Homo sapiens: one gene and its partners. The protein of the gene in region 1 purifies or fractionates together with the protein of each later gene. This does not show direct contact. Each region holds a gene or a part of one and is shown on either strand. Other genes may lie near its edges.

The links.
Region 2: the proteins of PIGN (region 1) and RABL3 purify together in Homo sapiens (affinity purification with mass spectrometry; one large-scale study listed by BioGRID and IntAct). This does not show direct contact.
Region 3: the proteins of PIGN (region 1) and GOLIM4 purify together in Homo sapiens (affinity purification with mass spectrometry; one large-scale study listed by BioGRID and IntAct). This does not show direct contact.

The regions. Positions count from the first base shown.
Region 1 is NC_000018.10:62,180,549-62,184,205, reverse strand, and holds part of PIGN (GPI ethanolamine phosphate transferase 1), read left to right. Parts: intron 1-3,657.
Region 2 is NC_000003.12:120,707,979-120,711,635, reverse strand, and holds part of RABL3 (rab-like protein 3), read left to right. Parts: intron 1-1,726; coding exon 1,727-1,856; intron 1,857-3,657. UniProt on the Homo sapiens protein: Required for KRAS signaling regulation and modulation of cell proliferation. Regulator of KRAS prenylation, and probably prenylation of other small GTPases. Required for lymphocyte development and function. Not required for myeloid cell development.
Region 3 is NC_000003.12:168,022,854-168,026,510, reverse strand, and holds part of GOLIM4 (Golgi integral membrane protein 4), read left to right. Parts: intron 1-1,415; coding exon 1,416-1,583; intron 1,584-1,916; coding exon 1,917-1,985; intron 1,986-3,657. UniProt on the Homo sapiens protein: Plays a role in endosome to Golgi protein trafficking; mediates protein transport along the late endosome-bypass pathway from the early endosome to the Golgi.

The DNA of each region.
Region 1 (3,657 bases):
CCACAAGTAATATTCTGAATGCAAGTTTTGGTTGACTTGAGGTTTTAGTAATACCTCATGTTTTATTGTTTTTCAGTGTGTGGTAAACATCCACAGATAAACTAGATAACTTGTATTGGTACATGCATATATCTTTTTAAAATTTTAATAGTTATGTGTTTGTTTTGGAGGTATTTCTTTTTCAATAAATCTGAATAAATTGTGATTTTCTTTAAAGAGAAGTATTAAGTAATATTTAGTATTAAGCAATTAAACTAATTAAAATAAGTAGTTAGTGAATGCTGATATTTTGTAATAACTGCAATTTTATTTACATTAATAGTAAATTACTTTATCATAAAAGGTTTAGTTTTTTTTTTTTTAAAGTATTTTCAGTCTTCACATCTTGTTCTGGAGGAACAAAAACAGAAGCAGGGCATCCTCTAGTGGCTGTAGTGCATATTGCATTTACCCTTGAAATGATAATTCTAAATAATTTATTCAGCAAACATTTGAGTCCTTACTAAGTGCATAAGACTCTGATGGGTGTTGGAGATGCCCCGTCCTGCTGTCATGGAATTGTGGTGAAGTGACAGAGACAGACATTAATTCAAATAGTCGTAGACAAAGCTATGTAATTACAAACTGAAGTAAAAGTTTTCGTTTCTGACTTCACCTGCATAGTCCCTGAGGAAGTGATGCTTGAAATGGAATGTTAGGAGAGAGTGGAAGATAGGTTGCAAGTACATTCTGCAGAGAGGAATTGAGCCTACAAAGGTCTTATAGCAGTGGGATACTTGAATAAAAGAAGGGGCCAGTGATGTGAGATGTTACAAAGTAAAGGGGAGTGCTATGAGACAGGTTTAGAAAAGAAGGCAGAGGCTAGTCTATAAAAGACCTTGTTAGTCACATTAAGGATTTTAGTCTAGATTAGTAGGTGAAAAGGCACTGGAGAGTTTTTTTTTTCCAGCTGTGACTTCATTTTTAAATTTATTTTTTAATATACGATTTTATGTATTCATTGTGTACATGATGTTCTTCAGTTTATATACATTGTGAAATGCTCAAATCTAGCTAAGTAACAAATGCATTACCTTACACATAGTTATCATTTTTGTGATGAGAAATTTGAACATCTACCCTTTTAGCAGTTTTCAAGAATACAATATATCATCATTAACTAGAGTCACCATGCTGTACAACAGAGCTCTTGAACTTATTCCTTCTATCTAACTCTAATATGAATGCTTTGATCAGTATCTCTACAATTGCCCCCCGCTGTGGAACTACCCCAGCCTCTGGTTACCACCATTCTGCTTCTAATTCAGTGGGGTCAACTTTCTTAAGTTCCACATAGGAGTGAAATCATGCAGTATTTGTGTTTCTGCACCTGGCTTATTTCACTTAGCATACCAGGCTTCAGGAACATCCGTGTTGTTGCAAACGTGTCTTTTGACTTTAAAGACAGTGAATGCTTCACAGAAGGCACTGGAGAGTTTTATACAAGGGGTAAGATGTTCAGATTTTCTTTTGAAAAAAGAAAAGCAAGTAATACTCTGGCTACATGGCAAGAAATGGATCAGAGAAGGGTTAGAGTATATAGGGGTGACCTATTCCTGCATTGCAGTAGTTCGCATAAGAGATGGTATACATCTTAAATTATAGAGGTGTCAATGGAGATTAAGACAAATGAACAGATTCAAGAAACACAAAGTGGACAATTGTTAGATTAAATAAAGGGGAAGAATAGGGTGTAAAGAACAATGCCTATTTCTCAGACTTACATACTTGGTGGGAAGGTGGTGCCACCTACTGAGATTGTGAACACTAAGGATTTAGTAGGTAGTAGACAAGGCTCATGGGAAATGTTATGAATTTGGTTTTAAACCTACTTAGTTGAGTGTCTTTGAAACGTCCATGTAGATTTATAAAGGTTCGAGTTACATATGTGGATTTGGAGCTATAATTTGTTGAGGCTTTTGCATATTAGGTAATAACTGAAGCCACAGATATGATGAAACTTGCCAGGATAGAAAGTATAGAGTGAGAAGAAAAGACAGCTGAGGACCAAGTTTTGAGTAACTCCAAAATTTAGTGATCAGATAGAGACTGTTCAACATTGGTCAGAGGTGTAGGTGAAAAATGAAAGCAGTAATGTTCATAGAAGCCAAGTGATAACAGCCTATTAAAAAGGAGAAGGCAGCCGGGCATGGTGGCTCATGCCTGTAATCCCACCACTTTGGGAGGATGAGGTAGGTGGATCACCTGAGGTCAGGAGTTTGAGACCAGCCTGGCCAACATGGTGAAACCCTGTCTCTACTAAAAATACAAAATTACCTGGGCATGATGCTGTGTGCCTGTAATCCCAGCTACTTGGGAGGCTGAGGCAGGAGAATTGCTTGAACCCGGGAGGTGGAGGTTGCAGTGAGCCGAGATCGCGCCACTGCACTCCAGCCTGGGCGATAGATAGGGCGAGACTCTGTCTAAAAAGAAATAAAAATAAAAAGGAGAAGGCGACTGGGCCCAGCAACTCACACCTGTAATCCCAGCACTTTAGGAGGCCGAGGTGAGTAGATGACTTGAGCCCAGGAGTTCAAGACCAGCCTGGGCAACATGGCAAGACCCCCGCTCTACAAAAAATACAAAAATTAGCTGAATGTGGTAAACATGCACCTGTGGTCCCCGCTACTTGGGAAGCTGAGGTGGGAGGATGACTTAGCCCAGGAAGCTTAGGTTGCTTAGAAAATGAAGACTAAAAAATAGCTATTAGATTTTGCACTGTTAACTGTCTTTACTTTCTTATGAAGTAATGACAATAAGGTTTAAGTTGTTTGAGATTTAGGTGGTCAGGAAAAAAAAGAGGTCACATTCAGCCTTTTCAAGAAGTTTGACTGTGTTGGGGAGAAAAGGGCAATAGATGTTTAAAATTTTTTTTATTAATACTGATATTTATGAGATGTATCCTTTTCAGAAATATGGTATTTCATTATGAATAAACAATTTATCTGTTCCCTATGGTTAGATATTGTTTCCAATTTTTTATTATTACAAATAGCAAAAGCCAAGATTTGAATGTAAAGGTTTAAAACCTTTTTCTTTCTGATGTGTAATTTTATCATAGTAAATTCTACACTAGTAGCAGTACTAATACTTGTGAGCTGGTTAAAAACATAAGCTGATGTCTACCTCACACCATATACAAATAATTATTTTTGTTTCAGAGGACACAAACCAACACAAATAAATTTTAAATAATGAAAGGTAAAAAACAAAAATCTAAAACTATTAGAAGAATATATGTGACATAAGAACCAGGAAAGTTTTCTTCTATAGTACAAGACACAAAAAACTCACACCAGAAAGGATAAATGTTTGACAAATTTTACTGTATTAAAGTTGAAAAATTTATTTTAACAAAAGGCCCTATGAACAACATTTATATATAAATGTGTATATCTAGCTATGTATAAACATACACACACTATATAAACATACACACACATATAATTGTAATGTACAAGTCAAATAAAAGGTCAATAACCCTAATCCTATCTGATCAAAGGATATGAATAGGCAGTTGAAAGGAAGAGAGACCCAATTGGCCAATAAAAACATGAAAAAATTTTCATACTCACTAGTAATCAGGCAAATACATATTCAAATAACAGGATGCCAATT
Region 2 (3,657 bases), on another chromosome or scaffold:
CTATAGAGCCTAGACATGAGAAAAAGAGAGTCTTTGGAGATAACTGTGAGTGAGAAAGTCATTGGAGGGTTTTGAGCAAAAGAGCGTATGATATAACTTGCATTTTTAAAGGATCACTCTAGCTACTGTATAGAAAACAAACAGGGAGGTTGGGGGATGCCTCTAGTAGGGAGATCAGTCAGAGACCATTATATCAATTCAGGCAAGGAGATAGAGACTTTGACCTGGGTGGTAATAGTGGAGATAGGGAGAAATGAACAGATTTTTGACATATTTTTTTAAAGTCAAAGAAGCAGAACTTGTTGGCAAATGCAATAATGCAATATGAAAGGAGTCAAGGATCAGTCTTAAGTTTTTGGCCCAAGTAACTGGAAGAATAAAATTGCCTTTTAGATGAAATTGCCACAAGAATGAGTATTGATAGAAAAGAAAAGAGACTGAAGAACTAAACCTTGAGACACATTAGCAATTAGAAATCAGAGAGATAAGAAGGACCCAAATGGAAGCTGAAAAGCACTAGCCAATGAGATAGGAAGAAAACTAGAAGAGTGTGATATCCCAGAAGCCAGGTGAAAAATGTTGCAAGACACGAGGTGGATCAAATGGTGGAGTAAAATGAAAACTGTTAATTGACCATTGGAGTTAACAATGTGGAGGTCATTGGTGACCTTGACAAGGAATAGTTCATTGGGGTCATTAGGGCATAAGTTCGATAGAAATGAGTTCAAAAGAGAATGTGAAGAAAAGGATTACCGCTAAGAATAGACAACTCTTTGGAGGACTTTTGCTGTGAAAAGGAAAAGGAAAGTGGCATGGTAGCTGGAAGAGGACTTGAGGTCAAGAGAAGGATTTTTTTTAGATGAGGAAAATTATGCCATGTTTGTATGCTGAGAATTGAATTGTGTGGTGAGGATTATCCAGCTGAGAAGGAAAATTTGATGGTATAAGGGAGAGACGGGAGAACTGGTAGAATTACATCTTTAAGCAAGAAAGTGGGGATGGGATCTCATGCACAGAAGGAGGATTTAGCCTTAGGGACATAGGCAGCCTAAGAAAACAGCAAGAAGGAAAGCAGATTATGTGGGCACAGATGGAGAAAGGCAGATAAATACAGGAAGAACAGGTTGTAGAAGCTCCTTTCTAATTGCTTCTGCACTAGGAAGCAAAGTTAGTTTTAACTGAGGATGGGGAAGAGATATTAGAAGTTTATAAAGAGGAAAAAGTATGAAATAGTTATCTGGAAGAGGAAAATGGTAAATTAACTGTGGAATTGATTGAAGGACAGCTCCAAAGGTACACTTAAATTTAGAAAGAATCCATTCATCTTGAATGCGTATTTTTCCGAGCTCCACATTCGGTTGCTGGGTTGTAGACATGAAAGAGGGTAAAAGGTGGATATAACCAAGAGTGGAATTTTGTCAGATGAATACAATGTGAGAGAGGGGCAAAGGAGTGACTGTATGATGGATCATGAAATTTATGCTTAGTTAGGAGGGAGGTGAGGCTTCGGAAGTGGAACAGAGAGCTGTGAAAGATGTTAAGATTAATTAACTATAAGGTCCTCTGGAGTAAAAATTATTAAAGTATTAAAGAGAGTAAGCTTAAAAGATAAGAGGTAGCGATCAGAAAGTCAGAGTAAGATGCTGAAATGCTTTAAACCGGAATAAGGGTACTTACTAGTTTGTTTAGTGGCTATATTAATTATTTTAATTGATTGATTTGTTAGGTTCATGATTACAAAGAAGGAACCCCAGAAGAGAAGACCTACTACATAGAATTATGGGATGTTGGAGGCTCTGTGGGCAGTGCCAGCAGCGTGAAAAGCACAAGAGCAGTATTCTACAACTCCGTAAATGGTAAAACATTTTTAAATTTCTATCTTATATTAATGGTCTAAGAGTATAGATCATCTGATATGTAATGCCATAGCATGCCAGACTCATCTTAATTTGAGAAAGATATAATGTACTCACAACCCTTGATTTAAATCTGCATAGTACATTCCAGTTTGCGTTTCTACATTGTAACCATCTAATTCAGAACATTAAACATTAAGTGTTTCTATTTATATTATTGTCATAAACTAAATATTGAGAAATAAAATCATATTTTTGGTACTTGACATAAAACATGGAACTTAAAATGTTGTCCTCTGGGGTTGCTCTGTCTCCAGTGAGTTGAGTAAGTACAGTAGGACCATAGGAGTCCCATAGTCTTAAGCCAGATAACACAGAGATAGAGGGATTTCTTTCATCTGCCCCTTAGAAAGAGCCCTAAGGCTCTTTCTCAGCTAGTTATAAAGAGCTGCTTAAGGGGGTCTTTATGGGTGCAGAAATTTTATCCAGTTATAGATATTCAAATACCTGGAGCAGACTTCCAGATGGAGCTGTGTAATATACGACATAATTTCCTTTCATAGAGTACCTACTCTGTGTCAAGAGACTAAACTGCTTATACCTGTGATTTGCCAATAGAGTTTCTTTCTTAGTCTTTTTAAAAATTCATTTTTAAAACCTGTTTTTACTGTGAAACATAATTTCAACTTCTGTTTGATTAATATACCAAAGGATTTGGCATTTCCCTCCTGGTAAATGCATAGCCATTAATAGACTTCATTTATGCTGTGCTTAGATCTCACTCAATATTAGGTAAGCATTGCATTTATTCAGTATGTTCATTCCTTATATTCCTCTTCTGATGTCTTCCCAGATCATGAGGTGTTGTAGACTCTACAAAAAGATGTAGAGAAGGTTCTTTTCATTGGATACATATTATAGAATACAGAATGAGATGTGTCAGTTCAGACCCATATCCTATTTAGCTCAGAATTCTATCTGAAAATGTCACAGTCTTAATAAAGAAACAAAGCATTCATAAATGAGACAAAAATAGTTATAAGATGACCTTGATATATGCCATCATCATGCAAAAAGGTATATACAATGGTATATATGAATAGAATGCATATAAATAAGAAAAACAACAATAAGACTAAGTATAGTGTGAGGTGACCTCTTAGAGAAGGAAGTGAAACCTAGTTTAGACTTATACTAGAGTGATCAACTTGTATCAGTAAAATTACTTGTCAAATTAAGATATCTATCTGATCTGGCACAGAGAAGTCTGAATATATAACACCTTTGATATTTAGGTATTTTTGAGACAGAGGTACAATAAAAATTATGAATAAATAATAGAGATAAATACCACTCAAATCCTAGAAGCTATGGAATTCTGAGTTGTAAACTTGTAAGTGCTGAAGAAGAAATCCATCTAATCTATATTTGTTTATCTTTTCTGTACCTACTATTCATTAGTGATTTGTCTCCTTTAATATTATTGAAAGAATTGCATATATCCTATGTTGATTTTGCAGATAAGACTGAAATATATTTCCATTTCTTAAAAGTAAAAAAAAAAAACTGCATTTATTGAAAAACCTATTTCTGTGTTCTTTCACCTTAGCTCTGGAACATTCTTCCTGGTAGAAGCACTCAAAGTTCTTTATTCCATCTACTATCCTTAGTTTCCTAAGAAACTGAACATAAGGATCACTCTATCCAAATGCACAGTCCATATTCTTAGCGATAACTTTCTTCCCTTAATACCCTACATTCTTCCCTCTCTAATAGCCTAGGCTAGTAATCCTTCAGAAGG
Region 3 (3,657 bases), on another chromosome or scaffold:
GAAACATTGGCCTTTGTACCATTCTTCCTTTTAATTAGAAATGGTTAATCCCACTTGTTCCTCTCTTTCTGTTTTATTTGAACGTAACAACTGTGCCTGCTAATTCATACCTGTTACGTGGTCGGAGTTGAGCTAGTCAATTTTATGAACGTTTGCAAAAGATATTTGGTACTTTTTTCTGAAAAGAATATGTTACATTTTTCCTGTAATTCCATACAAATTTTTGATAGTGCACTAAAGAAAATCCATATGACAAGAGATTGTGGAGTAATTAGAGTTTAGTGTGAAGGTGGTAATTTGGTAGTCTCTACGTTCCCAAGAATAGTGTCATTTGCACTGGAGTAACATTCATGGCCAGGGATGTGCAGATAATAGATCAGCTGAGATGGCAGTGAACTCTCAAACATGTTCAAGACTCCTAAGTGAATTGAAGTAGAATCTTGTCTGGAGAATACTGATAGAGACCAAATCCTACTCTGTGGCTTTACTGTCTCTTAGAAGCATTTACAGCTTAGTAAGTGTCCTATTGATGACCTGCGAGTGATTGGGGAAGCTCATGACAAGCATCACTGTTCCTCTCCATCTCAGGCTCTAAAATCTAAATCTTTATTAGGATGTGTATTATTTGGAAGGTGCTTTGGGAGCTTAAGTGGAAAATTGAAATAATTCTAAAGTTGATAATATGAAGGGCCTTTGTTGAGCACAGTAATTTGGGAGATGAGTTGGGAGGACATTTTTCATAATATATTGCCCTATTGGGCAGTTGGGTAGCTCAGCCCTTTTTAACTCCCATCCCTCGCCAGTTCAGCATCTCTCTGTTTCATGGGAATGATTGTTAATAAAGAAATTGGATCCATACTAGAAAATGACCATTTCCTTTTGAATTAGCCTTTTTCTTGTCTCCTTTTCGTATCCTTTTTATGGGTCCTTTCTGGTATGGGCCTTCTTTCCCATCAACAACTTTTCACCTGCTGACATGTTAAAAATTGCTTGCACAGGGAAGTTACTATAAAAATCAACATAGCAAAAAGAGTTAATTGCCCATCTAAATCCCCCACCTAAATTAGTATTTTTTTTGTCACTTGGTCCTCTGACTTTTATTAATTATTTTCTTGTTTATTCAGTTCTGTTCACATTACTTGTGTCAGTAGAGTTTTGAGAACTATTTTGAAATCACTTGCAGGAAAGAAGTGCTATTTGAACCTCATTCTGATTCATCAAGCCTCTGACAAGTAAAGCAGGAGTTTTCTCTTTTGACAGTGTGATGCTTGATTCTTGTGAGTCTTGGCAAGGATAGATCTGAACAATTGAGGGAAGGACAATTTCATTTTCTGCCAGTGGGCAGCCTTTTCAAATGAAATTAAACTTGATCCTCAGTTTTGAAGTGATAGTTGCTTTTTATTAAAATTTTACAGAGGGCAGCTGTAGAAGATATAAACCCAGCAGATGACCCTAATAATCAAGGTGAGGATGAATTTGAAGAAGCCGAGCAAGTGAGAGAAGAAAATTTGCCAGATGAAAATGAAGAGCAAAAACAAAGTAATCAAAAGCAAGAGAATACAGAAGTGGAGGAACATTTGGTGGTAAGCAGATGCCACGAGGAAGGGTGGATTTAACTGGGCTATTTTAAGAAACATCTGGTTTATGTAAAAGGTTAGTCATATTCCACATTGACGGAAGGTTTGCCACTTCGGTGGTTTTTAGGCCACTTTATGACATGATATGCCTGTACTCTGAGAGAGAGGGTAACGGACATCCTGGGCTTTGTATTGGGAATGATTACTCATCATTTCCTGGCCACAGACGCTTTGAAAGTGCCCTTTTCATGGTGGCATGCTTGTTCTTTGTCCCAGAGTACTGTGTAAAAGGCATCTCTGATGTACAGTAACATGAACCTGCCCTTTTGTTTCCAACAGATGGCAGGAAATCCAGACCAGCAGGAGGACAATGTTGATGAACAGTACCAGGAAGAGGCAGAAGAGGAGGTAGTAAGGATTGAATCCCAGAGACTGATCAGATTGGTCTGTCACACACACTAACCTTAAACAAACCTCAGCAGTATTGACTTTGACATGCCTTCCACAGAAATGTTCAGAAAAATTTAAGCAGGATAAGAAAGGGTGGTTTAAAGCAAAAATGGATCATGGCACTGGAGACATTTGGTTAGAAGATAACAAAAGCAGGGTAATAGAATCCATCTCTTTGGTTCTCACCTGAAATTTTGAATTAAGAAGGCATTTGGCTTTCCAGGAATGGTGGACTTAGATTTGTGCAATCTTTTGTAAGAATATTTTCTCCTCTCTCCCTCTGCACATTGAGGGAATCTGGACTGCCCCTGTAACTTTCTCTTCAGGCATCTCCCCAGTGCCTACCTCACAGGAATACCCCATAGTGTCTATCGGAATCCACTTAACACCCTCCAAACATTTTTGTAAATTTTACAGTCTCTCCTTCTGGCCTCTTCCTTCTTAAGAATTCAGTATCTTAATTAAATTTAACAATAAAAGAGGAGGAAAAAGATGTAAAGAGCTCAGCTGAATAAAATGCATTTGGATAGAGTTTCTTAATATTTTAGTTTGCTTTTCATTGTAAACTTCGGGCATCTTGTTGTTAATTAGATATAAGTAGCGTTTATTGTGGTGCTGCTTACGGTGTAGTTGATTATTGTGGTGCTGCATGTGGTGTAATTGGTGAATGCTGCTTGTTGTAGCCGTTTTATCACAGCATTCCGCTGCATAAACAACTGCAATATTTAAGAGTCTGATACAAATTAGGCCAAGACCCTGTATTTAGTCTCATTATGGACCAGTAAGTAGTTCCCAAATTAAAACCCTGGTTCAGAGCTGCTTCTCAGCCAGGTGTCTTGCAAATGTGTGGTTTTATCCCTATGGGGAACCCCATGGGAGGATGGACATATGGCAGACTGAACAGACACACCCCATCACTGGAGATCCTGTGCAGAAATCATGAGCTGTGCTCTCACACACACAGTTCCCTCGACTAGGTCTGCTTTCTTGTTCTTACTGATTTTGTAAGCTTTTCAGAGCTGATGATAAAATTTGTGCTTATACCAGGAAAACAGAAAAGGATGTTGCTCTTTAAGGTCACTGGCAACATTTCTAATAACATGCACTTTAACTGGCTTGATCTTTTTGTTCTTTGGTTTCTCATCCTAATCAAGACCCTTGGCTGTCTTGTCAGAAAGAGAGCAGCAGAGAAAATAGTGACCTTGAATATTAAGACATTGGGCAAGAAAAAGATATTCATCCAGGCTTCTCATATAACAGGATGTCTAGACTAATACCACTTTGTTTTATTATGTCCAATACTAGGAATCTTTGAGGGATTAAAAGAGAAAAGTTCACCTTGGCTTCTTTTTTAAAAATTCAGAAGATTAAACATAAAATTTTAACCAGTGTTTACTGATTCCTTTTCAATTTTATATTATGATCAGTTAAGGTACAGGAGAGAAATCCTGAGATCCAAGAGGAATCAAGAGTAGAAAGAGAAGAAAGAGGCAAGAGGAAAGGAGAAATGGTGCTAAGACAGAGGAGGTTGCCCTGGCTGAGTGCTGCCTAAACTCAGCAACTGCTCCTCATCCCACCAGTCATCCCCTTCAGATCTGCTGGACTGACAGGACTCTTCCTCTTGCTGCAC